Regions from separate parts of the Homo sapiens genome. Here region 1 is linked to region 2. The links come from fine-mapping of genetic effects on gene expression. A gene starts in region 2. The other region holds a variant in brackets. All regions are shown on one strand. Distances are from middle to middle.

What was found.
Region 1: its variant is fine-mapped to the expression of SPATA25 in visceral fat (GTEx, PIP 0.98).

Annotation. Positions count from the first base shown.
Region 1 is chr20:45,925,517-45,928,421 of GRCh38, reverse strand. No RefSeq gene overlaps it. Among named protein-coding and RNA genes, the nearest start is that of PCIF1, 7.7 kb to the left of the region's middle. RefSeq lists an enhancer at 818-1,112. The variant GC/C (reference allele first, on the strand shown) is at 1,285.
Region 2 is chr20:45,886,633-45,889,460 of GRCh38, reverse strand. SPATA25 (spermatogenesis associated 25) reads left to right here and starts at 1,839. Exons shown (of 2, transcript NM_080608.4): 1 at 1,839-1,925; 2 at 2,316-2,828. The coding sequence starts at 1,871. NEURL2 (neuralized E3 ubiquitin protein ligase 2) reads left to right here. Exons shown (of 2, transcript NM_080749.4): 2 at 588-827. The coding sequence ends at 703. RefSeq lists enhancers at 2,127-2,627, 2,628-2,828.

The DNA of each region.
Region 1 (2,905 bases), 39 kb before region 2:
CTGATCCTCCAGCCTTGCTTCTCTTCTAGTTCATAATCCACCAAGGAGCCACGGGGATCTGGCCATATAGCAAATCTCATCAAGTCACTCTGGGCTTAAAGCTCTTGAATGTCTCCCCATTGACTACGGGACAAAATCCCAAACCCTTAATTTGGCCTACAAAACCAGAATTATAATGAGCTACCATGGCAGAATATTTACTATGCACAACGTCAAGCACTTTACACACATTCATTTTATTCATGATCTGGACCTTCAAACCATCTCTTCTTGATCCAGTCCCAGCTACCATGAACTACTTCATAATTTCCCTAAATGTGCCAGGTTCTTTCATGACCCTGATCCTTTGTGTTTTTGTTTATTTCTTTCTTTGTTTTGTTCGTTTTTGAGCCAGAGTCTCCATTTGTATCCAGGCTCACTGTAGCCTTGACCTCCTAGGCTCAAGTGATCCTCTTACCTCAGCCCCCTAAGTAGCTGGGACTGCAGGAGCACACCACCACCACACCTGGCTCATTAAATTTTTTTTTTTTTTGTAGAGACAAGATCTCACTATGTTGCCCAGGCTGGTCTCAAACTCCTAGCCTCAAGGAATATTCCTGCTTCAGCCTCCCAAAGTGTTGGGATTTCAGGCATGAGCCACCGTGTCCAGCTCCTGAGTCTCTGCATATGCTGTTTGCCCTTACTCTTCTTCCCCTCTTGACCTAATTCAGCCTTCGAGTCTTAGCCTAGATGTCGCCTCCACCAGGCAGCCTTCCCTGAACTTCCTTCTACCCCGGCTAGGACAGGTTCCCTCTCTTGTACTACCACAATGGTCTAAGCTCATAATGTTTGTCAATTTTCCTCATCCACTAGGCTGTGCGCTGCTTAAGGGTGGGGCCTGGGGCTTATTCACCCTTGTAACCCCATGCTCAGTACTGTGCCTGACCCTCTGTAAATATTTGATGACCATGAACAGACCACTCTGGGTTGAAGTCTAGGTGGCTTTTTCAGGTAGCCCGTTTATTTATTTATTTTTTGAGACAGGATCTCCCTCTGTCGCACAGGCTGGAATGCAGTGGTGTGATCTTGGCTCACTGTAACCTCTGCCTCCAGGATTCAAGCGATTCTCCTGCCTCAGCCTCCGGAGTAGCTGTGACTAAAGGCACACATCACCAGGCCCAGCTAATTTTTGTGTTTTTAGTAGAGATGGGGGTTTCACCGTGTTGACCAGGCTGGCCTCGAACTCCTGACCTCAAGCAATCTGCCTGCCTCGGCCTCCCAAAGTGGTGGGATTACAGGCGTGAG[GC/C]ACTGTGCCTGGCCAGGTATCCCCGTTTCTATTCCAGGCTCTGGTTTCTGTGGTGGGAACACCAAGGCAGCACCCTGTGGGCTGCCTGCTGTGGCCGAGTCTCTGTCAGTAGCCTGGAGTCTTTTATTCCCAATATAGGGATGAGCAGTTGAGCAAAGATCCTAAGGCTTTCCATTTCTCCAGCTACTTTTCTGAACTAAGAAGCCTGGGTAGACAATAGGTCTGGGCTGAGAGAGGTGGTTGGAATAAGCTGGGCTCCTCTCCCTGGCACCAGGGCCGGCTGCATAGATTTAGAAAGGCCCATGCTTACTGGGTGTGGAGGCTCATGCCTGTAATCCCAGCACTTTGGGATGCCAAAGTGGGAGGATTGCTTGTGGCCAAAAGTTCAAGACCAGCATGTGCAACATAGAACCCCATCTCTACATAAAATAATAATAGTAATAATTAGCTGGGCATAGTAGGTGCTCCTGCAGTCCTAGCTACTTGGGAGGCTGACGCAGGGGGTGATTGCTTGAGTCCAGGAGTTCGAGGCTGTAGTGAGCCATGATTGCACCACTGCACTCTAGACCCTGTCTCAAAAAATAAAAACAAGATGAAAATAAAAATAATAATAAAAAAGAAAAGTCTGTGTTTGGTTTAATGTTCTACTGTCACCATCTTAAAAATCTTAATAATTTTGGAACAAAAGTCCCACGTTTTCATTTTGCCCTGAGCCCTGAATATTGTTTTTTGAGACAGCGTCTTGCTCTGTCACCCAGGCTGGAGTGCAGTGGTGCAATCTCGGCTCGCTGCAACCTCCCCCTCCCAGGTTCAAGCAATTCTCTTGCCTCAGCCTCCCCAGTAGCTGGGACTACAGGCACGTGCCACTGGGTCCAGGTAATTTTTAGATTTTTAGTAGAGATGGGGTTTCACCATGTTGGCAAGTCTGGTCTCACACTCCCAACCTCAGGTGATCCACCCACCTTGGCACCCCAAAGTGATGGGATTACAGGCGTGACCCATCATGTCCGGCCCTAGCCCTGAAAATTATGTCACCACTCCTGGCTGGTCACTAGCTGCCAGGGCCTCTGAGGACCCCTGCCTCAACTCCGGACAAAGCCAAGCCTCCACACTAAAGCAGAAACATAAACAACCAGCTCAGGTTGCCACATAGCTTAACCCCCTTGTTCTCTGCCACTGCAGCAAGAAGCTGCTGAGAGGGAACTTTCATCCCCTGAGGTCCTGGCAGCTGGGGAAGGGAGACTCTAGCTGGATCCCACTCCAGGTTGCCCCCGCCTAGGCTGGGCTTGAGCTGGCCATGGACCCTACACTGCAGTTTAAATTATGCAAAGGGAGTTTCCAAGGCAAGTGGGTCTGGCCCCCGGAAAGCTGTGGAAAGGAGGCTTCCACCCCAAACTGTGGTTCCCACAGGGAGTGGCTCTTGGGCCATTCTGGGACCAGATGAGAGAAGCCATTTAGGCCAAGAATAGATGAGAGGAATGGGGGCGTCTCCCTTGGTCTTCCTGGCCTTGGAAGCGTCTGATGTGGTGTACTATTCCCTCCATTTCTTCCCTTGGCCTGTCCTAGAGTCTTGAGAATAAGCGATAAGTAAGACGGACAGACGGTTTGTCTTAGGGAGCC
Region 2 (2,828 bases):
GGATCGCTTGAGCCCAAGAATTGAAGGCTGCAGTTCACTGAGCACTGCACTTCAGCCTGGGTGACAGAGCAAGACCCTCTCTCTTTAAATAAAAAAAAAAAAAGAAAGAAAAGAAAGAAACATGCTCATAGACTTGGGCATATTGGCTATTGGCTTCGAGGCATAACAAACCCCAGACTGAGAGCTTCTTAATGCTGAGTATGATTCATTATAGCCCTGGTAAGCATTGCAGTTATACCTCTCATCACATTTCATGAACTCAATGCACCAGAACCCTCTTTGTGCCAGGCCTGTGCTGGAGGCTTCAGTTGCACAGGCAAATCAGACACTACCCCTGCCCCCAGAAGCTGCTAAGTGAATGGGGAAGGGATTGTGCTAAGTGTTATGATATAAACAGGGCTGCAGCTTTGTGGCAGCTCTCAGGAAGAGGTGCTTCTCTCAGCCCCATGAAGCAGGCTGGGCCCAGAGAGCAGTAAGGACTTGCCCACATTTAATGACAAAGTGGGGACCATGACCTAGACCTTCTGGATCTTGGCCTCAGACCCACCCTCCAGTTCAGTTTGCCTTTCACAGTCTTCTTCCCACAGTGCCATCCCTGCAGACTCTGTGCCGCCTAGTGATACAAAGGAGCATGGTGCACCGGCTGGCCATTGATGGGCTCCACCTGCCCAAAGAACTTAAGGATTTCTGCAAGTATGAGTGAAGACCCACAGTGCACCAGAGCACAGCTGCATCCTGGAGCCCCAGACCTGTGGCTGGCTGGTCCGAAGTTGGCCACATTGCTGCCAGCCAAGACCAGAAATAAACAGCCGATGCTGACATCTTGATCACTGGAAGGTCTCCTTGCCCCTACAGCCTATGAGAGTCACTTCGTTTAGAATCACTGCAGGTCAGCAGGTCGGAGCAAAAGAGCAGGGGTCCCTAGGCTGGCTGCTTGTTAGAGTCATCTTAGGATATGTAAAGAGTGCTGGTGTCCCACATCCCATCCCTAGGGATTCGTATTTGATTTGTTGGGAAATTAGGCCTAGACATTGTGTTTTGTAAAAGCTTCTCAAGAGATTCTCATGTACAGCCAGGGTTGAGAAGTATGTCCCTAGAAAAAAGGTTCCAACTTTGTCATATATTATAATCACTTGAGGAATTTTGAAAAATACCAATACCTGGCCTGTAATCCCAGCACTTTGGGAGGCCGAGGTGGGCAGATCACTTGAGGTCAGGAGTTTGAGACCAGCCTGGCCAACATGGTGAAACCCTGTCTCTACTAAAAATACAAAAGTTAGCCAGGTGTGGTGGCAGGTTCCTGTAGTCCCAGCTACTCGGGAGGCTGAGGCAGGAGAATTGCATGAACCCAGGAGGCAGAGGTTGCAGTGAGCTGAGGTCTTGCTCCTGCACTCCAGCCTTCCAGTCATGGCGACAAAGTGAGACTCTGTCTCAAAAAAAGAAAAAGAAAAATACCAATACTGGGTCTGACCCGAAGTCTTACTCTACAAGGCACGAAGCACTTGGCTCCTGTGTTTCCATCTCTGGTCATCTGCTTCCATACAAATGATCTCATTTCATCCTCAAAACTCCTAATGAGGTAGTGGGCAGTCATCAGACACACTTTACAGATAAGGATATCAAGGAACAAAACTATCTGGGTGACTCGTTCAAGGTTAGGGCAAGAACCTAGAACACCCAGCTCCTGGTCTGGTGCTCTTTTAACCTCATCCTATTGTCATGTCCAGGTTCTAGAATGAATAGGTCAACGCTGTAAAGTGGATTCCAAGTGTGAAGGGGAGGGTCTATGAGGTGACATTCTAGAAGGGTGAAGAAGGGAGGACAGGCGGCAGATCACTATTCCCTCACAAACCGGGGCTTTGGGGAAGCCATGTCCTACTTCAGGACTCCACAAACTCATCCAGGTCCTCTGCCTTCCGGCCAAGGTGAGCGGGGGGCACCTGCAATTGGAGGGAGTGCGGCAGCTTCCCCTGAGAAGTTGCTTTCTGGCTCTGGGGAGGTGGCGGTTCTGCTGGGCATTTGGGGGCTGGCCCTAGAATCAATTCTTTTAGAAGAAAAGCCATTCCAAACATCCTTGCCAATCAATAACTACCCGCTTGCTCACTATTCATTAATTCAACAAACGCTTCTCCATCACCTACTCCGTGTTGGGGACTGGGAGTGTGGATATGAGTAACACCTAGTTCCCAACCTCTAGACAGTCCGCTGGGGCTGGTCTTAGTTACGCCCCCAAGCTCTGCTCCCATGCCCTGCCCCTCAGGGCCCCCTCCTCAAAGAACTGAGAATAACGTTCCATTTCATTCCTGTCTCTGCAGGTGGGGCTGCTTCTCCAGGCTTGTCCCTTGGCCTCTGTAGTCCTGTAGAGCCAGTGGTGGTGGCCTCTGGTGGAACAGGCCCACTGAGCCAGAAAGCTGAGCAGGTGGCACCTGCTGCCCAGGCCTGGGGCCCAGCCCTGGCAATGCCACAAGCCAGGGGCTGCCCTGGGGGGACTAGCTGGGAGACACTACGGAAGGAATACAGCCGAAACTGCCACAAATTCCCGCATGTGAGGCAGCTGGAGAGCTTGGGCTGGGACAATGGCTACTCCAGAAGCAGAGCCCCTGACCTGGGTGGCCCCAGCAGGCCTAGGCCCCTGATGCTGTGTGGGCTGTCACCACGGGTTCTACCGGTACCCTCTGAGGCAGTGGGGAAGGAGGCCAGCTCCCAGCCTGATATCTGCATCCTCACCCTCGCCATGATGATCGCTGGCATCCCCACCGTGCCCGTCCCAGGAGTTCGGGAAGAGGACCTGATCTGGGCCGCTCAAGCTTTCATGATGGCCCATCCGG